Linked DNA regions of Homo sapiens: region 2 is linked to region 1. The links come from fine-mapping of genetic effects on gene expression. Tissue or cell type: pituitary. Region 1 holds a variant in brackets; the other region holds the start of a gene. All regions are shown on one strand. Distances are from middle to middle.

What was found.
Region 2: THRB-AS2 starts here. The variant in region 1 is fine-mapped to the expression of THRB-AS2 in pituitary (GTEx, PIP 0.91).

Annotation. Positions count from the first base shown.
Region 1 is chr3:24,162,247-24,178,232 of GRCh38, forward strand. All of the region lies in intron 5 of THRB (thyroid hormone receptor beta), which reads right to left. THRB-AS2 (THRB antisense RNA 2) reads left to right here. Exons shown (of 4, transcript NR_121667.1): 2 at 11,538-11,658; 3 at 15,704-15,766. Among named protein-coding and RNA genes, the nearest start is that of THRB-AS2, 19 kb to the left of the region's middle. The variant C/T (reference allele first, on the strand shown) is at 7,935.
Region 2 is chr3:24,141,491-24,157,476 of GRCh38, forward strand. THRB-AS2 (THRB antisense RNA 2) reads left to right here and starts at 9,834. Exons shown (of 4, transcript NR_121667.1): 1 at 9,834-9,910. THRB (thyroid hormone receptor beta) reads right to left here. Exons shown (of 11, transcript NM_001354712.2): 6 at 10,900-11,000; 7 at 5,185-5,332; 8 at 2,011-2,216. RefSeq lists an enhancer at 1,456-2,655 and a silencer at 11,524-11,724.

The DNA.
Region 1 (15,986 bases):
CAGAAAGCACAACAAATAACCTGTCTGCCAATTCTCCTCCATCTGATTCCAAACTTACTGCCTTCTTCTCCTGAATTTGCAGGGGCCAGAAGTGTGCAGCCAGCACTGGCCCCGTGAGGACTTAGCATAGCATTTCACAGCTATGTCACTAGAATTACAGTAAATATCATATCTTCTGAGTGAATGATAGGGTTCTTTTCATTTGTCCCTAACTTTTGAAAATTAAAAATTTGTTTTTTCATAATCCATATGAAAAATAAGACAGACATTACATTCTGCATTTTAGGCCTCCTCAATGTGAAAATTACATCGGTTTTCCCCTCCTCAATTCTTGAAGCTTTATTTTAAATGTGATTCAATGAACTGACATCTGACTCTTCCTTAGTTCGTGTTCTTAATGCTTCCAGAACTTGATAACTTATTCTGTCGGCTATGAATGCAAAAAAAAAAAAAAAACTTTGTAGAAAAACAATCCAAGGGAAACTAAAAGTTATTCTAAAGTCTACCAATTAAGATAACCATTCTTAACATTGGGTAGTGTAGCCTTCCTTTATTTCACCAGTTTGTACCTATAATTTTTTTATAAGATTGTAATTTTTTTTTACAAGATTCTCTGTATATTAGAAAATAAAGGCTAGGAAATAAGCCATCCTTAAAAAAATAAAGAAAAAGTTAACACAGCTGCAGTATTGGAGTTTATAAAGCTGTAATGACAGCCATGAACACAGATGAAGCAATTATGAACTTTTATCTATTGTGAATAGATAAAAATCCAATTGGAAAATGAGGCCTACCCCACTGAACACCTGTTTATGGTCTTAATTTTGCCTTAACGAGACACTACTGATGTCATTCAACACAACAAAAATCAATAGTGGATCAATATGGATAAACATGTTGGGTACAACCTTTTGTCCTAAGAGACAGTTAACAGCTGGGTTTAGTTTTACTGGGATTTACTCGAAGACTTGTAAAAGTAAATAATGGTGCATTTAAGAATATTTGCCTGTTTTGATTTAGTGAGTTTGGCAGGTGGCGGTGGCCTTTCAATGACATATGGCTTTGAAATTACATCAATATATGCATACAATGTGTCTTTTCCTTTAGTTCATGCATCAAATTAATTAATAAAGAACCCCTGGTTTAACATTTTATAAGCAAATATTCCCCAGTGTTGGTTGAAGAAAATACAGTGAAAAGATAAAAGAGAAAAGAGCCTGAAACGTTCTGCAGGAATTTTTAAGAACAGCAGAATGAGCACATAGATTGACAGGTACCAATATTTTCTTACAACACTACAAAAGGCATATCCAAGTATGTTTAATGAGGCAATGTTAATTTCTTCTTTTCAAAGTTAAATTACTTATACTATTAAATGAAATAGCACATGTTCAATGTACCTCAAATGTTTCCATTAGGGGACTTACCCTGTGTATCCCTTGTAATAAATGAGATTCTGATGACCTTCAAAAGGATGCAAAACTCTATATTTATAAATAAAAATCAAGATGAGAAACTCTAAATATATTTCATGCTGTAATCCCCTTAATATTTCATGATTGGAAGTTATAGAATAACATTATATATAGTAAAAATTACAGATTCTAGTTTTTGTTTTTATAAAATTTTGTTCATTTGTTTTCATAACAGACTACTTTCAATTATAAAGTCACATTAAGAAAAGCAAATGATAAATTTTATAGAAACCACAACTAAATAAACCACATTATGTTTTAAGATTAATTTAACAGAGAAATTTACCTTTGAGGATCAAAGGGCATCATGTTTTTGTAAATTATAGAAACTCGTAAATTTGGTTCTCTATGCAATATCCTATAGATTATATACAAAAGCATGAGATTCTGGCATATCTGCACTAGCATTTACACTATCTTCAAAAGCATTCCTATCTGGCAGTTGCTACTTAATGTTCTACCTGTTTGCCTCCCTTATTTTATTTTTCAGTATCTTATTTTTCAGTAATACAAGAAATGTTCTATTGACAGAAATTTAAATAGCATTATAAAGCCACAGTGTCTATTAAGATAAATGGATATCGTACTGGTTTTAATATTGGCTATTTTGAAGTGTGTTTCACTTGCTTTCATAAAGAGAATTCACTTGATATGATTACAGACATGTTCAACTTTAGGGACAAAATAGCAAAGTAAAGTTTCTCAGTTTTTGAGTTTTACATCTTACAGTTTGACATGGTTACAAATAGATTCTTTACTGTTTACATGGATAAATAAATACATTAAAATGAACATTTACAGATCCTAGCAAATCAACATTAGTATAGTACTGTTAAAGAAATCACTAAATCACTAAATATTTTACTAGTTAACTAGTCAACTAAAATAAACTTTCAAAATGAAGTGCCAAGGAAAAGTCAAATGAGTTTTTAATCTGAACCTGAACTAGAGAGAATTATCTCACTTCAAACACCACAACACCTACCCGCCAGAAGGAAACCTTTCACATATTTTCTTTCGCAAAGAAGCCAACAATAGTCACTTTGGGCAATATATACACACACATGCAAAATACAGAAAGGCAACTCACTCCAGCTTTCAAAGATGAAGAAAAAAAGTGCTTGGAAATCTTGATGTTCACAGAGTCCTTCAATCACCTAGCAACCCCTCTTACTGCCGTTTTTAATTTCAAATATTTAGCGTTCAAATTCAAAGATTTGACGAAGCTGATGTAAACTGTAACTTTAAAATGAAACGAAAACAAACAGTGAAACTTTGAACAAATTTAAGCAAAATGGTCCCTACCTTTTTTTTGAGAATACGATGGCGACTGCACTTGAGAAAAAGTAGGCTTTTCTTCAGTGAAATATTCAGGTTGGCTGTATTGATTCAGGGCCATGTCCAAGTCAGAGTCCTTGCTTTTAAACATGTTTCCAGGGTAACTACAGGTATAAGGCTGATTCACTGCCCAGGCCTGTTCCATATATATGTTGTTACTGGGCACAGCCTGAGCATCGCAACCGCTGTAACCCGGACTATCTTCAAAATACGCGTAATAATCAGTGGACTGCATGTAGCAATTGCTGCCGGCAGCTGGGTGCACTTCATATATTTCTTGCATACAGTAGTTCATTTTGTTTCCCTGGTTCAGTTTCTAGTTTACATATACACACAGTCTACGCATGCATTCTCCAGCCCCATACACCCTGAGAGCTGGGCATATACGCAGAGAAGCATACATACATACACATGAAACGCGAAGGGAAGATGAATAAACACCACCACCAACACAGCAACCCAGCCTGCTTTACTTTGTAATAGCACCTGATGTGCTAAAATCCTATTTAGACCGAGGTGTCTTTTGAGCTCTTCTGCCATCCAAACATATTGGAAAGCAGATTTATGACTATCAAAGGTCTTAAGCTGTGCATGCAGCTAGTTAATTCCTGGGGAAGATGGCAGGCAGGTAGGAATGACCTCCACCCAGATAGGGAAGTGACAGCGAGAATGTTACTCTGAAGCTGCTAAGATGCATTTTATATGCTGTTTTTAACCCCTTTCAACATGATTATAAAACGATTACTCATTGTTATGTCATTTTGGTTGACAGCTTAAGCATGAAACATTATAAAGACATCTTAGAGAATATCCTTGGATACAAAGAAAATCCTAAAATCAATAATCTAGTTTATTAGCATGAACCAGAGAAAATCCAGTAGTAATGAGCCTGATGACTGACTGACTCCAAAACATTAATCTAGCTGTGCAAATATTGGTGGTTGAATCTGTTGTTGAATGTTACTGACTGGGTTTTCATACTAGGATCCAACCATCTTCCCATGACACATAGGTCCCGCTGGTTTTTAAAACATGCCAAGGAAGTACACGGTTGAAAATGCTGCTGATGTCTGCAAGTGAGTTTTATTCTGTTCCTTGCGCATGATTATTTTCTACTTCATAAGCACTAATCTACATGAGACCTAAAGCTTACATTAACTGTTCAATTCTGTAATTTATGTTTTCTTTATAAAGGCATGAGAGACTGTATGCCAATGCCCCTATATGAGGAATACCCCTATTATATAGCAGCTTTCCTTTTCTGTTGGTGCTTAACAGTACTCTGATCAGTAGTGCGTGGAAAACTGTAAACACTTACCACTTTATTCCCATTCAAATCTGCTTTTGAGATTATTTTCAAGATTTAATGTGATTTAAGTGGTATTCATGTACTTACTTAAAGATAGTGATCAAAAAGGGAACAGCATTTTCTGTAAGAATCATCATATCTTTTAACTAAGGAGTTAACAAATACCAAATTAGATTGTGAATGCTTGCTAGGATGATTACTAATGGTATTTTCTCCCTGTGGATGGTGGCCAGTGTGTGCATGTCACATATATGCATAGTTGTAGATCATGACATCAGGAAGGGCGGATGCTGCTCTTCTACACTAGGGATTCCTTCCGTTTCTTAGGCAGCTTGTTTTCAGGGCTCGGCCTCAGGTGGTTACGTTTACATTTGGCTTCCTGCTGGTCCATGAGCATGTGACCTTGTTGGTATTTGTCTCTAAAGGACCATCAACAATGTAATACTGTAATTTTCAACAGTGAGACCTTTGCTTTGGACATGTAGCTCCAGTCATCAATTGCAACGTGGAATTCTGGGACAGGGACATATGGCAGAAGTAAGGAGGGTATTACAGTCATTCAACAAATTATGGGGTGTCTGTTAAGTACAAAGCAAGGAGTTGGTGGCTACAGAGATGGCTGTTCAGAAAAAAAAAATCACCGTCTCTGTCAATAAGTAGCTTAATAGCATGTATATTAAATATACAGTCAAGTGGACCACCATTGTGCTGTCTTTAATTGCTGACTTTTTATAAATGTAGTAAAGGAGCCATAGACTCAAGGGAAAAGGTGGGGAATTGTAGAATGAGCTAAAGATGTGACAAAATTAGAAAAGAGACCCAGGCAGACCTATGTGGAGGATAGTAATAAGACTCCTTTAAAAACTGCAACTGATATAAAACAAGCAAAAGCATGTTCGTCAGTTGGTATATATTTGAACCTGGAAAATGAATCACAATATCCTAGAAAGCATGAAAAGTTACCATAAGGAATAAAGAACACAGCTAACATTTTAATCGTGTTTTTACTTTCTGATTACCATTAAAACAAATGAAAGATTTATTCAGTGTTACTAAGAACACATACACAATATTACAATTAACATTTTCTCCCTACTGGAAATGTCAAAACATTTCATTGGAAGCAATAACTATTTTCTGAAAACCCCAGGAAAAAGGATCCAGGCCTTATGTTTTTTTGTCTGATGTCATTTATTTATCTCAAATTTCCCAAGCCTAATCTGAAAATTAACCTTTCAATAAAGCAGTTTTCTTTTTTGGCAAATGCACATGTTCCAAAGTCTCTTTTTCTGGTTAAGAGCTGCGTGTTGAATCCATTCGATTTTGCAGTTTTGCCCAGTGCATTTCCTGGCTCCCTCTCTTTCTCATTAAAGGCAGAAATCCAAGCAATTTCTTGCTTTTCATCAGTAACAATATCAACGAAAATCAGAGACTCAACTTTTATTCCAAAGGAATACTTAAAAATAATTTTCAGAAATCTCTAAATATGCTTGAAAAATTGGAGAGTTATTCTCCCCTGGAACTGGATATAAATACTGCAGTGAAAAAGGAAAGAATAGCTGCTGAAAAACTTTCTCTCTCTTTTTACTAAACGTCAGAAAGGTCAACAGTATTTTTATTGAATTTAAAAAATCCTGAATTCCCTCAGAAATCTTTAAATTAAAAAAAGTTTCAAAACATATTTAAGAGAGCTCACTTCCTCACGAATGTTTATTGTTTGGAGAAAAGAGAACAAAACATTCTGAAACACTCCTCATACCAAGTGGGAATACTCTTTACTTGTAACGAATGCACAAAACTTTCATTACTATTAGTTGAAAATGGAGCTCAACACTTACATTGAATTTGAAATATGGCCCCTCACATCCTGATAGAAGCAATCACATCTGTCACCTGTGATTCAGTCTTGCATGCTTCTTTGTAAAGTCAGTAAAGCAATCTAAACATATTATGTGTCACAAATGGGGTAAGCTTCAGTGAGGTTGTTGTCTTATTTTCTTGATTGCCTGCTCTAATTATTTAAAGAGCAGCTTAAGAGTTATTTCACTTATAGTGCATCCAACTGCCTTAAATAAACTCAGGAGGACTTTAATAATTCCGATTAGAAGTGTTTCAATCAATAATATATATATATATATATATGCGCCTAGGTGTGACTTATAGAAAGTCCGCTTTAATAATTATGGGTGAAACTTTAGCATCAAGATTTTTAAAAGAAGTTCCTGAGGTTATTTACATAAGTAGCAACATTTGAGAACCACTTGTTCTACTAGGTGTCTGACCCCAGTCCCTTCACCAAGGAGCAGGAAATCCTGTGTACTAACTCCTTTTTCTTCATTTGCAGCTTCACTACATATTTCCCTTAGTTCTTAGCAATTTACCCTCCACACTTCAACCAGGCTTCACCTGCCTTTGAGTTAACCAGTCAAGCAGAGGAGGCAGCACAAAAGGAGGCACGCTAGGAAAGAACGAAATACAAGGAGAAGTGTAATAAACTTGGCATGGGGACACAGGAGTAATCTGCCTAGAGTGCCAGGGATGGCTTCACAGAAGAGGTGACCAGTGAGCTGGAAGAGTATGTAGGACATCATCAGTGGAGGCCTAAGATATGAAATGGCTGAGCAGAAATGTCTTAGGAAGGGTGCTATCAACTAACTGTACTTGCAAAAATACACATAAAGAAAGATAATTGATAAGCTTTAAAGCAACTGGTCAGAGCCTTTTAACTTCCACTCTAATGATTGTTCTCACTTTCTGTTTTAGTAATTGAACCGCTAAATTTTAGTTGGGCTCATGGCCCCTGAGAAAAAAACTATACGTCCCAGTTTCCCCTTTGTCAATATGTGTCTGTGTGACTAACTTCTGGCCAACGAGATGTAATAGAAGAAGTGTTGCAAGGCAATTTCTAGGAAACTTAAAAGACACATTAAAAGACAACTGGTGCATTCCATTTGCCTCTACTTTGTTTTGACTTTCTGCTCCCTGCAATGACTGGAGCCCCAGCCATCATTTTGGTCCATGAGAGTGAGGACTATACTCTAGGGATTACGGAAGAATGATCTGGAAAATTCTAGGTTGCTGAAATACACAGAATTGCCATACTAGCACTGGACTGCCAACTTCTGGACTTCTTTTTTTCTCGAGACAGAAATAAACTTATTTAGGTCACAGTTTTCTTATTTGTAAAACAGATAACGGTAGTCACTTCATTGGTTATTGTGAAGATTAAGTGAGTTTATATAAGTAAAGCACTTAGAATGATGACTGGCCTAGTAAGTGACATAATTATATATACATAATAATTATAATAATATATATTATATATATATATTATAATATATATCTCTTAGGTCTTGTCTTGGGCTACTTCTCAGTCTATACTCTAGGTCACAGGTCAGCAATCTTCAGCCTGTGGGCCAAACATGACCCACCACCTGTTTCGTAAATAAAGTTTACTGGAATACAGCTTTTATTTGTTACATATTGCCTGTGGCTGCTTTTGTGCTACCATGGCAGAGTTGAGTAGTTGCAAGAGAGACCTTATAGCCTGCTGAAAATATTTACCACCTGGTATTTTGGAGAAAAAGTTTGCCAAGCCCTGCTCTAGCTGATCTCATCCTGTCTCACAGCTTTAAATACTAATTATATGCAACATCCATGTGGATATCTCCATCGCAGATGTCACCTCTGAAACCAGGATCCTATATCCAACCATCAACTTGACATCTCCATTTGCCCAACCAGGGCATCTCCAACTTAATTCTTTCTAAAACCTGTTCCTCTCACAGTAGTCCCATCTTGGCACCACCATC[C/T]ACCTGGGAGCTTAAGCAAATAACCTTCAAGACAACTCTTTTCTTCCCTTCACTACCTAAATCCAATTCATTAGCAAGTTCATTGGTTCTTCCTCCAAAATATATGTTTAATCCAACTACTTCCTTCTCTCCGCTGCCATCTCGCAGTCCAATCCATCATCATCTCCTAACTGGACTCCCTTCTGGCTTTCTCATTAGCTTTGGCCCACTTTAATATTTTCTTGACACAGCCACCAAAGAGTGATGTTTTACAGGCTGCAAATCAGATAATGTTTCTTCCTTGTTTAAAACCTTCAGTGGCTTTGTACTGTATTTAGAACAAAATCCAAACCTCTACCAAAAGGTGGTCCTTCCCCACTACTTATCAACCCTCCTGCTTCCTTGACATAAACCAAAATAGCATCCTTATTATTCCTTGAGCACTCCAAGTTTTTGCCTGCCTCAATTCAAGGACGCTGCACATGTTCTTCTGTCTGTCTGATATATTCCTCCCTTTAGCTCTTCACAGGACAGAGCCCTTCTCATTTGTTTGGATGGAGCCTAAGTGACATTTTGTGTGTCAGGAACCTCTTGATACCATCAGAGGCCTGAAAGCCCTGACACTCTTCATATACATAACAACACTTGCTCTCTCAGAAAAAAGATGGAGGACTCTCTGCACCAAAATCCATGTGCATTTAAAAAAAAAAAAGATAAAATGTTACATATTGCAATAAGTGGATTATCTTAGGCTTGAAAGTTTCTGGGAGATATCTGTCTGTCTAAAATCGATCCAGTTTGTTCTTTTATATCTTCGTCACAAGAGAACAGAGATAGAGCTGTTTATTAAACTTACCTCAGTTGAGGTTATGGAATTACAAGTAACCATCATCAGTGCCAATCATCTCTGCCCCAAAAGAGATGATAAAAAGGATTGAGACATTTGCTGCCCTTTGAAGTAACTACTCAAATTGAGGAAAGTTTCCTTTAAAAATGTAAAGAAGCATGAGTCTCGATCTTACCACTGAAGTGCTGAAAGCACATCTAATACATTTTGGCGGAAACCAAAGAGGTGCACAAAAACTTTTTGACCATGCTTTCTTGGATTGTTGAGGTCTGGAATCTTCGGACTCATTGCTTTTGAAAAGGACTTCAAATCAGTTCAACTCCAGAGATGTGAGCAGGGCAAGCTCCTGGGACTTCCGGAGCACCCAACTTTAAAGCAGCCCTCCCTCCAGACGCTAACACATATGGAACACTTATGGAGGCTGAGACCTGTTTTATGTTTTCTTAGGATCCTAGGATATTACAGCAGGAACTTCTGAGCTATGCATTCCACATGTATTTTATCTGATTATGAGAAAACTGAATCCCAAGGGGATGAAGTGACTTGTCACATGGTAGGTGGTAGCCGTTGAGGCCGTGACCCACTCCTGCTTTGACTGTATCATTTCTCCTATTGTAGGTGGGGCCTTTATTTTCCCACCTGGGCCTAGTGTTCTAGGGTTAAAAAGGTGCTGTGGAGGAAAGGGAGTAAAGGAACTTGTCTTAGGCCTGGGGATTGACTGTCCCTCCTCAGCATTTCTGCCAAATAATATAAAGCCTTGAGTCACTAGATCATGCAAAACTCTAACCATTTTAGAAACTTTTACTTCCTCAGTCCTGGGAGTGTTAATTAGCATGGCTCCTCCTCCCCTACCACTACTGTAATGGTGTAATTCTTAATAAATGAACACCATGGCTACTGGGTTAATATTCAGATGGTGTTCCCTAAGTGGTCCCATAATACAGTCCCAAGAGATGATCTAAAGAGAAAACAATAAAAATAAACTTTATAATCAAATGAGTTTGGGAAATGACACATTAATGCTCCTCTCTTGGAGATTCACACACACACAACTTTGAATGACTTTGTATAACAGCATTTCCTAAACATTTCTGATCATAGAACCCTGTGTGTATCTTGTAACATTTGTTACAAGTGTTCCATGAAACATACTTTGAAAAACCTAGTCATCTGCTCTGTTGGATATATATGCTGGAGCTTAAGGCACGGATACATAACAGTGCATTTCTCAGATTACACACCAAGAACAGAGAGAAGAAATCTGCTGAAGGGGAGTGTCCTTTTTAGGGTCTTTACCAACGAGGAAAGCTGCCGGCCAGAAGAGGCAGGCTGGACACATGGAAATGCAAATCCCCAGGTGGGCACAGGACAAGACCAGGGCCTCTTGGGCTCTTGAATTAAGTCTGTTTCAGTAGGAATAGAAACTCAAAGCTCTTCTCTTTTAAAACATATTGTTAACTGAATTTGTTTCTAATTTTTTCCCTTGGCATTTCATAAAAGCTTTTGATAGTTCTAGCCCATTACAGCTCTACAAAAGGGCACTAAGGGGAGACTTTTGTTCACAATCGATCACCAAGCAGAATATGCTTTTACAAAAATGTGCTTGAAAAAGTGACAGTGTTTTACTAGTGAAAAGGGAATGGATTCTGATCTGGTGCAGTGGAAAAAAATTGGCTCTGATTAGAACATTGAAGCAGGAACAAGACAGTCTCAGGGACCAAGCTGATGGAAGCAGGCCCAGTAATTGAACTGAGAGATTTCCAAAGGGCAAGAGACTCTCATCAAGGCAGTCCTGGTGGCTTCCTCAACCTGGACACCCTCTTTGTGGGTCTAAATTTTGGAGTTGCATGTTTTATTTCACAAAGGTGGAATAATTGCCTCAGCACATTAATGCAAAAGATACCACAAACTTAGCTACAGCAGCCTTTTACTAGATGAAATATGTCAATTTCTAGGATGAGCAAGTTAAAAAGAACAGCCTTTTGTGGTTCCACAAAGATTATAAAAGAGTCCAAAATTCTTAGGTCAGTGATTCTCAAATGGTGGTTTCTGAACCAGCAGCATTAGCATATCCTGGAACTTCTTAGAAATGCAAATTCTGCAGCCCACCCCAGACCAACTGGATCGTAAACTCTGGGGGGTGGGGACAGCAAGCCCTCCAGGGGATTCTGATACTAGCCGAAGTTTGAGAACCACTGTCTTAGTAAAGGCTGAAGTTGCTCTAGCTAGTCTGTGTCAACTTTTCTAGCATCACTGGCTGTTACCTTGAGCCCTGGATTCTCAAAACTTCTGTCTTCTTCTGTTGGTTTTCTCCTGGTCCTGGCAGGTGTATTGACTTTGTCCTTGATCTAAAATGTTTTAGGCCTAATTAGGCTAGGAAGAACGGCGTGCTCCATGTGGCCAATGCAGCTCAATTTTCCTGGCCTCTACTTTGAGTTTTGGTGACCATGCACTACCAGTACCATAATACACAACAAACTTTATCACTGTCACTCCAGACTGTCAACAGGAGCAGTGATATCTGACATTTTTGGGTCTTTGGACATAATACTATCACAACAGCACAAGCTCTCTGCTTCCACCCAACTCCACAGCCAAACCTATTGATGGTATACCAGAAACCTCCATGTCATACAGCCTTTTCCCACATGTCTCCTCTATCCCTGGACAGTTCTTTTCAGTCATCTTCAAGGGATGATCTCCTCATCTGTCTTTTACAATTGGCCATAACTTTGGTTCTATTCTCAGCCCTCTTCTAACCATACATATTCTTCCAGGTGAAGCCATCAGTGTCTACAGCTTCAGCTATTGCCCGTGTGCAGATGGTGCTTAATCTCTCTTGTGCCTTCCAGACCTGCATTCCAGCCACCTACCAAACCCCTTTCTGTGGATGCCAAGGTACCTCACATACCAATTCTAAACTCAGTGTGTCAGATTCTGTGTTGGGTGTTTATATGCATCATCTTATTTAAACATCACAATAGTCCTACAGCAGCTATGACTGGCCACATTTTAAAAAAAATTTTTATTTTACTTCAAGTTCTGGGATACATGTGCAGGACGTGCAGGTTTGTTACATAGGTATACGTGTGCCATGGTGGTTTGCTGCACCTGTCAACCTGTCATCTACGTGTTAAGCCGGGCATGCATTAGGTATTTGTCCTAATGTAGCCACATTTTTTTAATAGATGAAAAAAAATCTATTTGTCTGAAGTGGCACAATGGTAATTTGAAGAGTGAGGATTCAAATCCAGATCTGTTCAAGTAGAAATTACATACTTGGACTTTTCGTTACAGCTTGCTTATCTCTCTGTAGCTTTGCCACAGCCTCTAGTCACAAAGGGCCAACTATTCTATGCTGTTACTATTTTAATTAAACTAATCATTTCATTTTTAAGAGAAAACTTGGCTAACCCAAGAGGTTTCTATACCTCTCATCTTACTCTGATCTTTCCATTCATCCACCACGTTGCAGCTAGGGGAATTGATTTTAAAGGAGAATCTAAAGCATGTCACCTGTTACCCCTCCCACAACCCCAATCCTAGCTTGCAATAATCTTTAGTTTTTAAGATAAAGCTTAAAGACTTAGAAGTCTTTTGCAATGTAGCTCCTGACTACTTTCTACTCTTATCTCTTGCCACTTTCTCATATGACCTGAATGCTGGCCATTTGCAGTTTTGTTGAACAGCATCTCTCTGGCTTGGTCACACACAGTTTCCTGCGTACAGTGGCCCATGCACTGTGCTAACCACTTTCCTATAGATTATATCATTTAAGCCTCACAGCAATCCTGCTTGTAGACATGACTGTTCCTGTTTTAGAGATAAGGAAACTGAGACTCAGGGAGGTTCCATAACTTGCCCACAGTCATAAGACTGATAAGTGGTATTCTCAATGCATGCAAATACCATATTTATGTCCAAAATGGTATGTCTCTGTTTTGCTGCCCTTATGCCATTTAGCAGCTTACGCTGGAGTCTGGGAAACTGTAGGGCTATAGTGACTGACATGCAGTGATTCTTCGTGGTTTGTCATCTGTCCTCTTTGATGAGTCCAGAAACTTAATCATGTCAGACAAGGGAATTTATACACTCAGAAAATTACTAAACAATCTTTGCTGGATGTTTAGTCCATGAAATCCTCTTCTGCATATTGAGAAACAATATATAGTCTGATTTCAGCCTAAATTCAAGATTTGTTCCATTTAAGTTTTCAAGTAATGGGTTGTAGGGTCCAAAATTCCCAGACACGTTTTTACTATTCCAAGCCCTTTCTTGCATAGTATTTCCAGTGGATGGAACAGTGCTGATTAAAGACTGGAGTCCTAGCATAGTGTCTTTCACATAAGAACTCTGGGATAACGATCAAGGGTTTTATTCTGACTGATATTTCCCAAGAAGACCAAAGGCAAATCATAAAGTCTTCTTGTGCTTTGAGAGAATGAGATACTATTCAAAAAGAGCTCAGGATCCACACCAAAAGAAAAATGCACATATACAAAAGTGAACAGAATAGTATTCGTAAGGCTGGAGATTGAAAGAAAAGTGAAAAATTTGAAATATACTTCAGACCACTGTTATCATCATTGAAGTCTTCTATTTGCTAAGCCAACAGTGGAATGTCTGCTCTTTTTTATAAATGAACATTTGATTCAAAACCAACCTTAATGAATCTAATATAGTCTGATGTGGCTTGAATATCATGGCATAAAAAAATGCAAAAATATTTCAGTTTTGGTGTACCTTTAATTAGACAATTGGCTACATAATAATGATGAGGTCTATTGCATGGTGTCTTTATAAACAATAAGATTGCTTGGGAAGGTATTTCCATTCATTTTGCACAGTGGAAAACTGAGGGGTGCTTTTCTTACTGTACATAATTACAAAGGGAAAAGGTTAGTATTGAAATTTAGGCCCTCAAGTTACTATTCTAGAAATCACTTTTCCCACTTCCACGCTATGCTTTTCTAAGTGGAAAATTATTTTATTGTTTTTGAATTTCTGGGTGACTAATAATGTGTTTCAACACAAATTCTAAGATCACTTCAATGATTTATCTGTTTTTCCAAAGATGTGCTTAATTTAATGTCACATTGTATATTTATTATAGTCAATATGTTTCCTTATATCTCTAGAAAAAAATGCTCTTCGATATTTTGTTTTTATAAATATCATTTATGTTTTGCTTGAATTTCACATAGCAACTCATTTAATGTATTTTTTAATTTAATCATTAGATAAAGTAGATATGTTTCCCCTTAATGTGTTAAGATAATTATTTCACTGTAATTCACAATGATCGACTTGATGTGAAAAGTTGAGTGGTTGTTTAAGTGGAATAATTTTGACATTTAACAGCTACAGTATACTTTCTTTATCCCAGAATAGCATGTCAGAGATTAATTTTAAAACAAATTTCCCTAATAATAGGAATAATGAATGAACAATTGAATCACCTGCATTTACTTTGCTTTTTCACCCTTAAGAACAACTAGTGCAAAATTTAGACTATGCCACAGCTGATGTAGTTTCAAAAGATTTATTCTTTGTCAGTAAAGGCTCCAGTCCTACATTATACTTGAAAATGTTATAAAAATAATAAAAGGTAAAAAGTTCAAAGTACTGATACATGCTACATTGTGGGTGAATCTCAAAAACAGTATACTAAGAGAAAGATGCCAGTCATACAAGACCACGTATTGTAGCATTCCACTTTTGTTAAGCTTCAGAAAAGGCAAATCTACAGGGACTGAAAGAAAAATGGTTGCCAGAGGCTGGGCACAGGAATGGGGAGTAACTGTAAACGACTCAAAGTTTCTTTTGGGATGATGGAAATGTTCTAAAATAAGATCCTGATGATGGTTGCATGCCTCTGTAAATATACTAACAATCATTGAACTATACACTTAAAACAGGGGAATTTGATGGCATGTAAATTATATCTCAGTGAAGCTTTACAAAAATAGATGCAGGGCTACAAACAGCTTGAGTTAATTAAGACTGATTCTCAAAATAAAATAAAGTTTACATCATTTATGTATCAATACCATGTATGTTATTCTCCCAGATCTAATGGAGATACACTATAGAAGGAAGACCTGGCCCTGACTCTGAAATTTGCAATCAAACTAAAAATACCTATCAGCAAGCAGAAAACAGTATCCCACACACTGAATACTTCAAGTGTTAAGTGAACATGGAGTAAAATGGAATCATTATTTTTGAAACAACGTAGGTTACATTCTTCATTATTCTTTCCTAAGACAAATGCCAGCCAGCCAATAGAATTTTCATCATCGCTTGGTTGTCAACAGAGTTACTGCTCATTGCAAGCCTAGACTCGAAGCTCTGCCAACATTTTCTGTTTGAAAAATCCTACGAAAAAAGGGGTGTGCATTTAACTTTTTATTCTCAGCATATAGTACAGTATTGGACACACAGAACACACTCAATTTAAAACATTGTCAGTATAAATTATGACGAATTCACCATCTGCAGTGAATCAAACAGGCATGTTCAGAAGCCACAATTAAATAAGGCAGAACACAATGAATACTTGTACAAAATTTCATCACAGCATTAAAAACAAAAATCCAAATTCATTCTGATGGGGCATGGGGGCGCACAGAGGAAGCGATGTCTGAATTGGGCCTTGAAGGATGAGTAGAGAAAAAGGATTTGTAAAAGTTTGCAAAAATAGGATCTACTTCATGTTGGTGCCCTTGAGATCCAAATCCAGAAATGGCAAATTGAAATTCTTCATTTTATTTCAAATGTCAAAATGTTCTAGAAAGTTACACAATAAATATCAAGGTTATCAAGACATACTCTGATCTTAGTTGTTTTGTAATGTAATATGATTGGATTGTGGAAAGAAAAGAATGTTTAGTTAAAATATGAGACGAGAATAAAGTGGCTGTGTCTTTTTTTTAATCTTCAGAAAAGTCTTCAGACCGTGGACAATGTGCTCTTTGCCCCTATTATGGAGAAAGGTGTTCCCTAGGTAAGTATCATCCTATGGGTCCAACCTTAAAAATGTCACAGGGGACAGAGAAACAAGTAACTTTTTCTTCTGACATTCACCTTTAGAGCATTGAATAGCTGCTTATTAGAGGACTTTAGAAAATATACTTTCTTCTAACCCAGTAAGATAATGAGCCAGCTCACCAGTAAAGATCTAGGCCTGCTCACACTAAGATATAAGTGGTTTGGAAGATTGAAAA
Region 2 (15,986 bases), 21 kb before region 1:
TCATTGCACTTACCACTACCTGCATTTATTTTGTTTGTTTATCTCTTATTATCTGCCTCCCACTAGAGGAATGTGCCTGACTTATTTACTTTCTGGCACATAGTATCCACTCAATAAATGTTTCTTAAATAAAGGAACAAATCTTTAAAGTCTGGAAAGAAGCACCTTATGACTACTTAAACAAGTTTAGTTGGACTAGTATCCCTTCTCTATGGGGAGTAAAGACAATAAAAGTATAAAATTCCCGGGAGAAGTCCAGGATGAACTTCAAATCTTCTACCTTACTTGGAATTCAGCTTGGTCACGACTTGAAATCAGGAGACAGTGCCAGGCCTGGAAGTGGTTTCTACAATGTCCATTTATGGGTGACACATTTGGGGAAAGGATGGATTTAAGTTTGCAATTAGGTAGGACTCTGTCTTGCTATGCCCCAAGTGTACTGTGTTAGAATTTGTCTATCAATCCAGAATTAGTGCTTTTGAATTTTCTGGCAGATATACCAGGGTGGGGTGAAGATGCAAGATCAAGGCACTGAGAGGCTGCTCCTCCAAAGAGCTGGGATCTTTCAGAGGCTTTTTGGGTTTGTGCAGGTGCCAAGATTGCATAGGGTAGTGGATAGAGACATAAATCCCGGAGCTGGCTGCATCCATCACCACTGTTTACCAGTTGTGGGAGCTCAGGCAAGTTTCCTCAACTTCTGTGTCTTACTTCTCTCTTCTGTAAAATGGAGATATTAACCACATCTACCTACAGGATTGGTATAGGAAGTTAATGAATGAAAAGCACTTAGAATAGTACCTGGCATATGGTAAAGGCCATCTAGGTATTTGCTGACATTGCTGTTAGTGAAAGCCATCAACAAAGTGCTGGCACTATTGTTTCATTACAACGAAAGTAATTGTGTCAGTACAGGTGAATTATGTATAAGCCTTTTCTTTCCAAAACTTCCTTTAAGGTTGTTGTTATGTTGTTTTAAGAAAAAGATCCACTATCTCATTGTAATGTTAATGTTGAGGTACAAGGATAATTATACCACTATATCTTCTTGTTCAGATGGGGAAGTACTCTAATGTGTCCTAGGGATACAAATGAAACCACAGAATATCTGTTGTCAGGTAGGTACTTGAAAAGGGTTTTATATCATAAACTAAGAGCAGAGTCAGTCTCTGAGATGGTCCAGCACTAGTAGGGCACGTAGTCTTTCTAATGAGGTGGGTGGAGAGCCTGGACTTGGAACCAGAAGACCGAGTTGGTTTTGGTGCCTGGCTTTTAGCAGTGCGATCCTGGGCAAGCGGCTTAAGGCCTTGGGCTTGGTTTGCATGTCTGTAAAATGGGGATAGTAATTCCAGCTTACCTCAAAACACTATGAAGTCTGAATAAAAAATGAATGGGAAGAATTTTCACAACTGGTAATTTTTATAAGAATATTAAACATCAATATTGCAAGGGTCTGGAAGGTCTTTTTTCTCTACACACTCGTGCCCACCAACCCTATCCCTACTCCCTCATTCCCATTGCCCTTCTTGAGTCAAGCTCATTTAATTTAAGCTAAAAAATTTTGACTTCTGTTGACATAAAAATATACTTGAGGCCTAGAGGCTATTATAAAGGGAATATTTGGGATTGAGTTCAGGGACTAAATATGTATATACTGGGCATCTAAGGAAAGAAATGGGTATAGAAAGTAAAAGATGGCAGACAAAACATTTTACTAATTAGTTGGTCTGGGAGTGGTCTTTCTAACAGTAAAAGCAAACTGATATAATGTGGCCTAAGAAACTGTTTTAGAATTCAGCAAATCACAAAGTAGATGGTAGGAGTGGCCTTTATTCTCACACAGACCTAGACTCAAATCCTAGCTTTGCAAGTTACTCAGCCTCTCAGAGCTACGGTTTCCCTATCAGTAAAATGAGGCAATAACACCAGTATCCCAAGGTGATGAGGACTGAATAAATTGAGGTAGAAAACACTGGCATATAAGTGAAACTGATCTGTGCAAGGAAGCCTTACCAGGAATTTCCGTTTTTGCTTCCAGTGGCTGCCTTGGGCGTTGGTCGCCACATGGGCTTCGGTGACAGTTTTGATGAGCTCCCATTCCTCGTCTGTGGGCTCTGGCTTGTGCCCGATGGACTTCTGCAGCTCTTCCCGCCGTCTTTTCTCCCGGTTCTCCTCTATCAGCTTCCTCTTGGCCAGCCTCTTGCTGTCATCCAGCACCACTGGGAGGGGGAGAAAGATGAGACAAGGCACACAGATGCTCCCAAGATACACAGCAAGCTGCACTTCCTGGAGCCTCAGGAGTGGGACCACTGATGCACAGATGGCTTACTGGGTCCTTCGGGGTGGGTCACACTGGGACAGTTTCTCTCCTCACCAGCAAACTGCCATTGACTAGTCTTGTCCAACATGGTCTCTAGAGCCAAACTCCCCATGACCGGCCAGCTTTTCAAAACAAAGTCCCCAGAGAACCTAGACACTGCGCACTCCAACTCCACAGAAGGTGGTTCTAAAACAGAGTGAAGCAGAGAGGTAAAATCCATACTACCCACAAGATCACAGAGAAATCTGTCCAGCCAGTCATCCGAATTCACTCTCTGGGTTTCTGTCCTCCCCGCTTCCCCTAAAACGGCTCTTAGTAAAGAGAACTTCAGGTTAAAGAAACGTTATGGAATTAAAAAAAGAAACGTTATGGAGCAGTAAGTGGGAGGCTCGTGATCCCTTTTTTTAAGAGGAAAAAGGACCCCAACTCTTCATGGCTCCCTTAAGGGCTAATTGGAATGTGGCTGGGCCTCACCTGGGCCTCAAGGTACTCACTGTACATTATTCTCTACCTGGTCCACCCTCAAGGGTGGTTAAAGAGTCCAGGCTTTGGAATCTAGAAAGACTTGGGTTTGAATTCTGATATTATTACATTCTAGCTGTGTGACCTCTGGCAAGTTCCTTAGGTTCTCTGAGCTTTCATTTCTTCCTATACAAAATGGGCTCAATAATACCCACTTCACAGAGTATTCAATGTGATAATGCATTATAAGTGCTCAGTAAATGCAGTCCTGACTTCTATCATTTGGGTGAAAGGAAAATCAGAAGGGCAGGTAACAAGAAACCTATATTTCTGTGGTCAATTTCCAAAACCAAAACCGTTTCACTAGACTTGGTAACTATCAATGGAATGGAAAGGCTCAGGTTTTACATTGCAGAGTCATAGTATTTTAGAACTGGAAGGGAACTTAGACGTCATCTAGTCCTACTCTGTCTTTTCACAGAAAGAAGAAGAAATTGATCCAGAGAGGTCGTGACTTGCCTAAAGTCACAGAGCAAGTTAATGGCAGAGCCAAGGCAAGACCCAGGACTCCTGACTCCAGTTCTACGACATCACTGTCCTAGGGCCATTTCTTGATGAAGGTGTGACCTGGTAGGAAAAGAAAAAAAGCAGACATAGCAAGAGAAGGAGAACCAAGGTGCCTAGCTAGTCTCCCATTTAAATATTCTAATTTAAAGAGAATATTAAATTCCAGACCATTTAGATTTGATTGGATTGTCAAAGTCATGTGAGCGCTTACAAATGAGGAAAATATGAATGAGCCCTGTTAAGTCATTTTGGTTCAGTTACTAAAGGGAAAGGAGGAATGGTAATAATACCCTCAACCCCTTCCCAAATGCTTCCGGTGTGCCAGGGACTGTTGTATTTGATGAACATTATCTAATTTAATCTTGAAAACAACTCTACAAGGTAGGCAATGATTTCACAGAAGGAAAATCTCAGCTTAATTCCAAAGGTCACACAGCTAGTAAGTGACAGATCTGGGACTCGAACAGAAGTTTTTCTGATTAGAAAGCCTGAGCTCTTAGAATCCCTCACAAGCAAGTAAAGGGCACTCAAAATTTATTTCCATACAGTCTAGATTAACACTGAGTTTTTAAACCTCATAGACACTAGTATCTTAAACTTCTCAATAGAACACTGAAATAGATAATCAATAATAAGTTTGTCATAGTGGCATATCTAAGTATTTGGCTGTAAGTCAATCATATTCACATATCCCTATCAGGCATATTGTTGGCAAGGGCTAAAGGCCTTTAAGAGATAAAGATAAAGAAAATACTCAGCCAGAGGTGGGGATTAACCCAGGATTTCCAGCCTAACACTCTAACATAACCCTCTTCCTTTTTAAAGATTCTCCATTCCTTCTTCTTTAATGGGCAAACCAGAACATTTCACAGATTTTTTTTTCTCAGTGAAAGAACTCTATTTCTCACATAAAATGTGAGTCATGATTACTTCTTTCATCAGGAAAAATCCTCACTGTATTTTCTTTTTTCTTTCTTCATTTTTTATCTTTCTTTTTCTTTTTAATTTTTAACTAATAGTTGGAATCTCTCACTGATGTGCAAAAAATTTATGCCAGTAGAATCATTAATACTGATGCCTGGCAAAAGGGAGGCCACACATTCTGAATGACATGATTCTTATTTTTATGATTAGATTAATTAAAGTGACTGGTGTAAATCCCTCGCACAGTGTGGGGAGAAGAGACCCCAAGGGCTAATCTCGCCACCATATGCTGTAGCACTTTGAAAACTGGGTAGGACGACTTCAGCTCGGAATGTCTTTATTGCTAAAAATATAACAAACAACCAACTGCAGGATGACTCATGCAATAGCACTCAACTTTGCATTCTTCAGAAATTTCTGAACACGATGTTTTCTGCCAGCGCCCCATCTCCAAAAATGTCCATAAAATAAATTCCTGTCTTTGCTCTTGAAAAAATATTAGGACTAGTCCCTGAGGCTCTACCCCATGTGAACACTGTGTATAGAATGATACCTTATCAAGGTAAATGGACCAGACCTCTCATTTGTAATCTCTGTCTCAAACAGAGTGTTGCTAACAACTAGGCCTGCAAATGTGATAGGGATAATTTAACTGCATTTCCTCCTCCATCATCCATACTTTGACAGTTAGGAGGTGGTATGACAGGGTAGGATGGAACCCACCCAGCAATGGCTCCCACCTCCCTTTCAGGGCAAGCCTGGATGTGGGGAGTGAGGGGTGTATGCGAAAGTAAGGTATTCCCTTCTCTGTCTTCTTGGGTTCCTGCCTTCTTTTCTGCCCAGTCGATCTCCTTGAACCAAACTGTTTCCTAATCAACATTCCTTGAATATGAAGCAAGTGAAGATCTACTTACAATCTGTTGCCATGCCAACATAGATGCATTTCTTAAAGCGACATTCCTGGCACTGATTTCGCGTGACTTTGTCTATGACACATTTTCCTTCATATTTACAGGAATAGGATGGATGGAGATTTTTCTGAATGGTTCTTCTAAAGAAACCCTATATGAAAAACAAAGACCCAAGACAACAGTTTCATATTTTCTTGAAATCAGTGATTCTGGAATTTTGTGTCCATATAACTATGAGATGAATCGTTTTGGACCTTAACCTGTTTCTAGGCCTCTAGCTCCACATATTCAAATATAAGACAGTTGGCCCAGAAGGATCTAGAGAGTTCTAAATCTGAGCTGATGATGCCATAGGACTACAGAGTCAACACCTTTTTTTTTGGTCTTTATTCAAGGAAAAGAGGCTAGTAGGAACATCTAGCGCTTGTTTTTATTTTTTCTAAATATTGAATATATAAGTAAATTATACTGTTCTATTTCATATACTGACATAATTGTGTTGCTAAATTAAGCTATGAGGAGTTTTGCTACTTTATACTGAGTAATAAGAGAGCTCCAAGACCAAGAAGAAAGTGAAAAAAATGAAAAGACATGGATACTTGCAATACTTTATTAATTAAAAATCTAATAATTTAGTAATTAAACAGATGTACTAGCTGGCTTCCTGGATTTAGTTTAATACTTGTTTTTGAATCTTGAGACAGCCATGATCAGCTCACTTAGCCTTTCAAACAATAGGACTCAGGGAGTAGAACGCTCCAGGTTTTCTACCAAGTTTTTCCCCATAGCTCATTGCATTGAGGTTTTCCTTTTATAACACTCTTTCTTTGGTATCTGTAGACATACACCTACAGGTTCAATGATTCTTCCTTTCTTAAGGCATGAGAGAGCACCTCTGTAGCATCTGGGGACACTGTTTAGTTCTAGGTTTGGGTGACTTAGGTAATATTCTCAAGAATGTGCAATACTAGAATTTTTCTGGACGTGATCCTCAAGTTGAGGCAACTGTCATCTGTATTGTAGAAGTTAATAACAGCAGTGAGCACTTATTGTGAGGGCACATTGCTAAGTGCTGTAGAAACATTCAATATCCTTCTATCTTCCCTACAATCATGTAAAGGAGGTGCTCTAAATATTTCCATGGTAGGGATTAAAAAAGTAAACCTCAGACAGGTTAAATCGCTTGCCCAAATCACATGGTAAGTACATGTGGGAACTTCAGGTAGGATGGAAACCACCCAGCAATGACCCCCACCTCCCTTGCAACCCAGGAGCGGCACTCCACATCTTACTTGCTTAACTGCTTATATGATGTATAATGAAGTAAATTTTACTGTATTACTTGAATGTTTTAGATCAACAGATTATAAACAGTCCTGCCCCAGCCACTTAAAAAGTTCATTTTAACTGTTGGTAGGATAACAAGGCAAAATGAGTGTTTTAAAATGTAAGAAATTAAAAAAAATTTTTTTTGAGACAGAGTCTCGCTCTGTCACCTAGGCTGGGGTGCAGTGGTGCGATCTTGGCTCACTACAACCTCCACCTCCAGGGTGCAAGTGATTCTCATATCTTAGCATCCAGAGTAGCTGGGATTACAGGCGTGTGCTACCACACCTGGCTAATTTTTGTATTTTTAGTAGAGACGGGGTTTTGCCATGTTGGCCAGGCTGGTCTCGAACTCCTGGCCTTCAGTGATCCGTCCTCCTTGGCCTCCCAAAGTGCTGGGATTATAGGCGTGAGCCACCACGCCTGGCTAATTTTTGTATTTTTAGTAGAGATGCGTTTTTGCCATATTGGCCAGGCTGGTCTCCAACACCTGGCCTCAAGTGATCCGTCTGCCTCCGCCTCCCAAAGTGCTGGGATTACAGGCATGAGCCACTGTTCCTGGTGGCAAAACAAGTTTTGATGGATGTCTTCTGCTAAGGCCTAAAGGGGTCCTCTAACTTTGCTAGATAAATGGTGGGAAATATCAGTTGATCTAGATTCAGCCCAAATTTTTATGATCCCGGTTAATGTTCTTTGGCTTTGATTATATACGTATACCCTATTGCATATTCCTCCTTCAGACACAAAAGCTCTTTCTTATTATGAAAATGCCCGAGGTAGGATTTTATATTGGGCAAAGCAGAATAAAATAGAAAAACATCAGGAATAACTGAGACTAACAGACTTGATTTTGGGGCGTATATGCAAATCCCTTATCATTTCCATTGTTCAAGTTCTAACAGAAAACTGTCAATATTATATTTGGGTTCTGTGTTCCTAAGCACTTGAGTCCATTAATTTCAGTGATGTTCATACACTGTTACAAGATTCACTCATTCACACGCAGGGCAGTTGTTGGAGATGTTGGCAATGATTTCCTGGGTGTGCAGGGTGGGCAAATCTTGCCAAAGCATGAATGTCAGAGCATGCCATGAGAGTGAAAAACAAGTTTCCCTGCAAACCTAGCTTTTCTCTCTGCTACCCTCTGACCAAGGAGGGCAAAGGAGAACTAAAGAAACCCAGAGATTCCTGGCAAGAAGATGTATGTCACAGACAGGGAGGGGAGGGGTAGGGTAGCACGCCTCCTTCTGGAGGAAACAATAATTTCCTAGAGGTAGAAATACCAAAGTCCAAGACATCCAGTAAGAATGCTGACGGCTTACTAGGATAGGAAGATTGTTAGTCTATCTGAAGTTGGGGAGACCCTTGTCTCCCTCATACTCTGATGCTGACTCATGTTCAGGGGTGGGTTTAGGGCAAGGAGTACATTGACCAGTAAGACCACGCTAAGCAGAGAATGAGGTGTGACACACCAGACACTCCAAAAAGTCACTCTGTTCACTTTTTATTGGGATGAATGAAATAATTTATACTTTGCTTATTTCCACAAAAGAGTTGAGATAGCTAGCTCTACTATACACTATGCCATCTTTTCTGTGGCCTATCTCTGATGACTTGTCTTGGGCACTTCATGGACCAAATCCTTTTAAAGATGTTGGCCTTTCTTTTTTTTGTTTTTTCTTGATTTTCTTCTTAAAATGTTGGCCTTTCTTAAGCTATAATTAAAGCATATTTTGATGTATGATAAGGAACCACTTCATTTTAAAAAGTAACAGAAATTAACTCTTGGAAGTGGACTTGAAGACATTTAAAACAGTCTACTTATTTTAAAAAAATCCTTTTAGAGATGAGCTGACAAAAGAGATGCCCTGGGCAATAAATAAGGACATATATTTCATTGATGATTTGTTGGTAAGAAGAGGTCTTGCTTTTATAAATCAATATCAGACATGTTTCTTTGTATTCTGAGAAGAACTGTATCCATTTTTTAGTACTTTGAGATGATTCACTGATCAATGTGAAAAGGAGATAACTCACTCTTCTAGTTCACTATTCAGGCAGCTGTTGAAAAGCTTTGATTCTTTCTCTAAAAATAGTTTGCTGTGGGACAGTATCAATATCCTTTCTACAAAAGATGTGTAAAAACTTGGATATCACAACAGACATGACATCTCCAAAAGATTTCACTCTTCTCAGGGTGAAAACTGGCAAAAAGGATTCTCTCCATACACATTGCAAGTATGGGGTAGAAATATTTTTAAATTACAGGTTTGAATAAACGATATAGGAAACAATTAACCCTTTCATCTTTCACCACTCTTAAAAACCGTGTTTCACTTGAAAAACTCGTTTGTCTTTTTCCAAGATGCTTTGTCATTATATTAAGTGATCCGCACAAGTACCCTGGGAAGGCTCTTCTCTGATTTTACAATGAAGGCAACCCTAGAAACAGGATTCTGACCTGAGACAAAGTCACAGAATCTGAAAAAAAATCTAGATTTTGCTACACGATTTCTTCTTTTAAGAAAACCTCAGCTGATCCAGGCTCCAAACATCCTGTGATCTAGGGAAAACAGGCTAGTTGATTTCTTGATCATCCTGAAGACATATGTGAGGCAGGGATATAGGTTAATAGGCTCAATTCTCTCTTTGTTTAAGTCAGTCACTAATAACGTATTGTCCTCTGTAAGGCACATTCACTCTTTAGAGTCATTTTGGGGAATTAAGTATTAAATTGAATTCCATATTAAATGGAATCAGGATCTCTCTCCCAGAATTCGAAATTTCCCATTATGCGCCGATTTAGAAGAATCTCAGTGCTGCAACTAAGGTAGGGAAAGCCTTATGAATTGGGACTAATTTAGAGAAAAGTCTAGTTTGAATTATCGAACTTTTGGAATGAGAGTAGGTACCTAAAGTTATGTAGTTTTATTACTTTCAAATCAAGCCAATAAAACTACTTTCAAGAGACTGTCTGCAAGTCTCTAATTAATAAATAGCCAGAACTTACTTGTAATTAGATTCATTAAATTCCCTAAGACATTATTTTCATAGATGTAATGGCAACCTTTAGCCCAGTCTTTGTTAAAGGACTACGAATTCCAGATCAAAGGGGTCTGGATAAATAAGAACATGTTACACCACATTCCAAAAAGCAAGTCTTGCAACCTTAGAAATTACCCCTTTCCAATGGATGTATTATCTCAACATTTTTAGCAGCCTTCTCCTAAATGTTTCCTAATGTCACGTACAAAAACATAGGGAATTTGCATGGAAAATCTTCCACTAGGGAAAAGGAAAACACCTTAATTTGAAACTGAGCTAACATGTTGATTTGGGGGCTTTACGAGCAAGGGTATGAACAAAGCGGGGCAGTTGGAGAAGCGGAAGAAGAGAAAAAGAGGTAAGGTGGATGAGAGAGGAGGGAAGGTGAAATGTTTTATACATTTAATACAATTTTTGCTTTAGGGTTTACATCTTGATAATTTAGTTTTAAATATAAGAGGTAAAAAAGACAAGGTATTTAACAAGTAAACAATTTTAAAAGTCCTTCCCTGACTTTAAATACTTCTTTATTTATGAAACATTAGCTGAACAGACACGAAATACAGCACTGGGTCAAGCTTTTTCCTTTATGGTAGATTTCATTTTCAAGGCTAGATTGTTGGACCAAAAGATATTTTCCAGAAACCTTATCTGAATTTTGTTGATGAAGTCTTGTAAGTAGGCCAATTTAGGTTCAGTTTCAGGAAGTGAATGGACTGATCACTGGTATATTCTTGTCAAGTATTTCCTGCAGATAGGACTGTACAGCACAAAATTAGCCGATGGATGACCAGAATCTACTTAGTCACTGCAGGCTGTGCGAAAAGCCAACTTGGATAATTTCAGAACATAACTGAATCTAAGTAGCCTCAAAGATATTCCCTATTGGAACCCTTGAAAATGAGCATATTCACTCAGACTAACAGCAGAAAACAGCCTGTGGTAGAGTAAACTCTGTCTCCTCCAACACTGTAGATAAAACAAGAAGAGAAACAGTCATTTCTCGGGATGACAACATGTTAAAAAGGACCTATGCTTTTTAAACCCAAAGTAAGAGTTTTATTAATTTCTTTTTATTTTATTGATTCTCTTCCTGTTTTAAAAACACTTGCAGAAGTAAAGAAACCAGACATTACACTCATTTAGTTATTTATGATTTGGGAAAAAAATTCAGTTCTTGAACATGTCAAAAATGAAGAGCACAACCAGACACCTGGATGATCACAGACCATGGATGTTAGAATTTGATTTTAATTTGAATTTAAACTTAACATTGCATTCTGGAAGAGGACTGGGAGGGGACTGGAGCTGGGCTAAGCTCTGTGCTTGTGGACCCAGGGCAATTACCTTGCAGCCTTCACACGTGATACAGCGGTAGTGATACCCGGTGGCTTTGTCACCACACACTACACAGAGCTCGTCCTTGTCTAAGTAACTGGGGATGTACCCTGTGAAGGAAATAAAAGAAGGAATATTAAAAAATAATATGTTAACGTCAAAGAGACACTATAGCTAAGGTTGCTAGGCCAGAGACAAAATTGGCTTGCCAGGAAGAGGTAACAACAGTAAAGACTTAGTGAAACCAAACGGTAAGAATTTTATACTCATAGAGTTAACATAGGCCCAGGATTTCAGAATGCCTTAGAAATAGCTCACACCTATAATCCCAGCACTTTGGGAGGCCCAGGCAGGTGGATCACCTGGGGTCAGGAGTTCAAGACCAGCCTGGCCAACATGGCAAAACCCTCTCTCTACTAAAAATACAAATAATTAGCCGGGCATGGTGACAGGCACCTGTAATCCCAGCTACTCAGGAGGCTGAGGCAAGATAATCACTTGAACCCAGGAGGCAGAGGTTGCAGTGAGCTGAGATTGTGCCACTGCACTCCAGCCTGGGCGACAAGAGCGAAATTCTGCCAAAAAAAAAAAAAGAAAGAAAGAAAGAAAGAAAGAAAGAAAGAAAGATAGCTGTGATCACTTGCTGTGCAGGTGGGAATGGCAGGAAGGCTGTAGAGCCAGTGACTCAAGCAGAGAGGCCAGGATTTGAGCACTGTGAGTTCTAGATAACACAATCTATTTAACAAGGCTTATTTCAAAACCTGTTTTCACAAGATTTGATCCACTTTGGAATCACAGTACCATGCAATGAATTCAGAAAACTTTATAGCTGGAAAGGTCCCGGGAGATGACGAAGTCCTTGTAAGGTGAAGAAACAGGCCTGCAGAGGTTTGGCCTTCCTCAGGGTCTCACTGGAAATTACAGGCAGGACTAAAACCCCAGTCTCTTAATTTCTAGCCCTCCAGTGTAATATGCTGGTCTTTTTCTAAAAATGGAGAGTTGACTTTAAGTAGAATGAATTTTGCCACCTAAAAAAGTTAGGTAAACTTGTGATATTATGATATGCAATCCAACAACACTGGATAGTGTGAAATGACAGAGGTTTTGTTTATTAAGAAAAAAGGAAAATCCAACTATGATAACTCTCTTTTTTAGTGGACAATGAGTTTATTAGTTTAAATTCCTTGACTCAGGAAGCTAAAAAGCACAAAAGCAGAAGCCTCCTGTTTCCCTCCTGTCTTTGCTCCTTCAGCTTCCTGTGGAGAGGATGCCCAGACACAAGATGCTGATTCAGGAGGGCAGGTTCATTCTCCCCTCTATCAATGGTTTACCATTGATAAATTATGTGATATATAGAATCACACAGCTTCACATAAGACCAAACAATCAAAATGAGGCAGGATTGGTTGGGATGTGAAGAAGGAAGAGGCTGAGAAACAATCCTTTCTCCCTATCATGGTCCTTATGAAGTTTTTTGACTCAGTTCAGCAAAGTCTTCTTTGTTCCAATAAAGATTAGCTAGGTTGAAATGACTGATGCCTTACTGTGTATCTTACCGTGACATTTCATAGACCTTTTATTAAACTAGGTCACTGAAGTCTTGCTTTTCAGAAAAAAAGCCATTAAGGAAACAGAATGAAATAAATCCTTTTCATAATTTCTTAGAAATTATGTTGCTCCAACTTTAATTTAGAAAAATGTTCCTTCTTGGGAGGCAGATAATTGACTTGAAAGTGAGGTTTAGTAATGTACAGGATTATATTTTTAAATATCACAGCTTTTCTTAGTTTACTTTTGCATCATGCAAACCATGATTCATCTGTTGAGTTCACTGCAAGGGTTTCAAAACTCTTGTCAGTCATTTTTAAAAAGGGAATTCTGGGAAGGATCTGGGCAGAGAAAAAAGGGAACTAGAATGCTTTGCGCGTTCATTCAGTCATTTATCTATGAATTCAGAAAACATTTATTTAGCATCTACATGTGCTTAGCATTGTTCTAGGTGCTGAAAATACAAAAATGAGTAAGACATGGTTTCTTCCTTTGTAAACTCATAAGCTGAGTTCTGTTTCTGTAGCCTTGGTCATTCTTCAATGAGAAAAAGAGAGGTGAAAATGAAGGGAAGAACATGAAAAGATGCTCAACATCATTGCAGGGAAATGCAAATCAAAACCACAATGAGATACCACTTTACACTCACTAGTATGGTTTTAACAAAAATGACACAGTCACAAGTGTTGGTAAGGAGGTGTGCTCATGTGCTTTTGTGTGCATATAAAGACCTACTTATAAAACACAAAGTAACTTTTAAACCACAAAGTAACTCAATTAGGAAAACAGGCACCTTCCTGGTAAAGGCAGATGGAATATACAGACCCATACTGTCAAAAAAGCTACATCTGAACCTCTTATACCTCGAGGTTATACACAATTAATCCAACAGAATGAAGACTTTCAAGTTCTTAGTATCAAGTATGGAATGCAGAGATAAGGGAAAAAGAGGTACAAGTCATTTCTGTCTAATCTCAGGTATGAGAACCAATTGTGATACACTTGAACACTGCTGTACTTGTGGGACATGACTTGGGAGGGGTCAAAACAAGGTGTCCAAGAACATTAACCAGAGTTGGGAAGATGCAGGTAGTTCCCTCTCACCTCATACTACCCCAGCCTGTCTCATGAGACCTGCTGGCTTTATCTTTTGGCATTGGCAGCCAGACACTGAAGATTTATTCCTACCTGTAGTTCAACAATTTATGTAGATGGTGTTTAAGGTTCTTGTGGAATCCAACAATAATTCAATCAGTGACTGGAATGGACTCCTTTCATTTACTGACTGCTAGGCTGAGAGGTGGTGTGCTTTACTCTCTTATTTCTCCTAGACTATCTTCTTCATGGGTGGAGGTGATTAAATGACTTTAGTTAAATCATCAAAACTTCTACAGAAACATCTACTTAAGTTGGTGGCAGCTACTTACATGATCATACTAGTGCACCCCACCCCTTGCTTTCTTTTCTGTAACATATTAACTCTGAACCATCTTATTTATCCAAAACAGTCACCACAGGCAATGATACATCAATCATTATGCCTAAGTCCATTATTCTTCATTAAATAACTTCCATCAGGGAATAATGTCCCACACATAGTGACTAGGTAGGTGAGGATTCTCTTAAGGTTACTGAACATGATTGACAACATTACATACTAACCAATTCTCCTAGAGAACTTAACCATTTCTTGCTGTTGTATTTCCTGTTGTATTTTAGTGTCTCCATCATTTTCCTTTGTCATACTCACCAAATGAGTTACACAATGGTCAGTATGCCAAACTAAGGAAAATGCACATGTATCATTAGTTTTGTTGCCAAGAGTGGACACTGATGAGTGTCATAATGTCAGCGTTGGATTCTGCCTAGAAACAAATACTACAGACACAATCCTGGAAGCTACGACTGTTCATGTCAGGAACTGCATCTGCTAGTTGTCCCAGGTGACTGCTAAAGAAGCCTGGTCAATAACCCTCCAGAAAAAATTAAGGTCCATGACAATATATGATAGTTCAAAAATGATATATTTCCCTCAGCTCTTGTCTGCTCAGATGTATTATTTTTCAGATTAATACATTATGCTGCCACTTTATCAAGCATATTTTTATAAAAGCAAACTCCATCTGTTCAACAAAGGACTTGAGATTTTTTCAGTTGACATTTGGCAATGTCTGGTTAATTGCTAAGTATTATCTTGAATATCTTACAGTTAATGCTATTTAAAAAATATTCTCTGAGCGACTTGTCATGTAGAAGGGGAAAGTTTTGTACATTTGCACTACAAAGGATGCAACAGGTAGTAAGCTTGCCTTCTTGGTTGAAAACAGATTCAATGCTTTCTTCCCTATGGGCAAGATCAGAAGGCTGGCTAGTTTAATTCTTTTGAGTGAATTATAACAGCATCTCAGGTCCTAGGAGGAGAAACACTGGTTCCTCTTGTCACCTTGGCAGATACATGGCCCTTAGGGAATAGAATATAAAGCAGATTAATCTTGAAAGTAGATCTAAAATATAAGGTGCTGCCTAGGAGAGCAGAAGTAGCAGCATGTGAGAAGAGCTGAGTTCAGAGATCTTTTCCAAACTGGCAAATCTTATCATCTGTATAAGACCACTTGCCTAGCAGAACCAGTCCTGGCATCTTAAGGGAGGGGCTGTGGTTTGCGGTAGTGGGAAATACTTTGGGTAGCTCAGAGAAGTGAAGAAGTTCCATGTTGCTGATTCATCTTGTAGAGCTATCAACTCAGAGCCAGTAGGTATCTGATCTTGGGACGGGATAGAGGATGAGACTGTATTTTGTCACCCTTCAGGAAGCTAAGTCACTAGCATGCTTAGTCACTCTTCTGATTTTATACTGAACCTCCTCAGTTCATCCTGCAGCTCAGACCTGATGATTTAAGCTTGTTTTCCCCACCAGCACCTTCCCTATGTCATTTCTTGACAAACTTAAAAACCTTGAAAGGGTTATCCTTTAGCCTTTCCCCAACATACGAATCCTGATTCCTTTTATATTTAATTCTTGGCATTAGGTACCAAGCTTTATATCATGTTAATCTTTAACCCTGTGATAGACACTATATTAAATTAAACCATGCATTCATCCATTTGTTTATTTAACAGCATGTATGGGTGTACTGTGTGGAAGACACTTGGTACAAACTTGAAACAGCATTAACTTTGGAGGCCTTCATCCATTGCCCTCTGCAAATTATTAGCAGAGCTGCCCCAGGGGCTCCCACTTCACACAATTCACAATCTTTCCTCAGAACATCCACTGTTTTCCCACCCTGCCTACCCCTGCTTGGAGTCTTGGAGTCTCTTTCTTTACACTTTGCCCTCTGGCTGGCTGGGCCCTGGTGTTGGGGGACAGCAGACAATGGCTCGCCAGGCTTTGAACACTGAAGCACTGGTGGGCGGAGGAGGGGCGAGCAGGAGGACCAAGTAGAGGTGTCAATCTAGAAAAGGGGATGAGGATATGAGGCCAAAGGACCCTGGATTCTCATCGGAGGCTTTAGTGCAGAAAAAGGGACAACATGAGTTTTGGATCATTT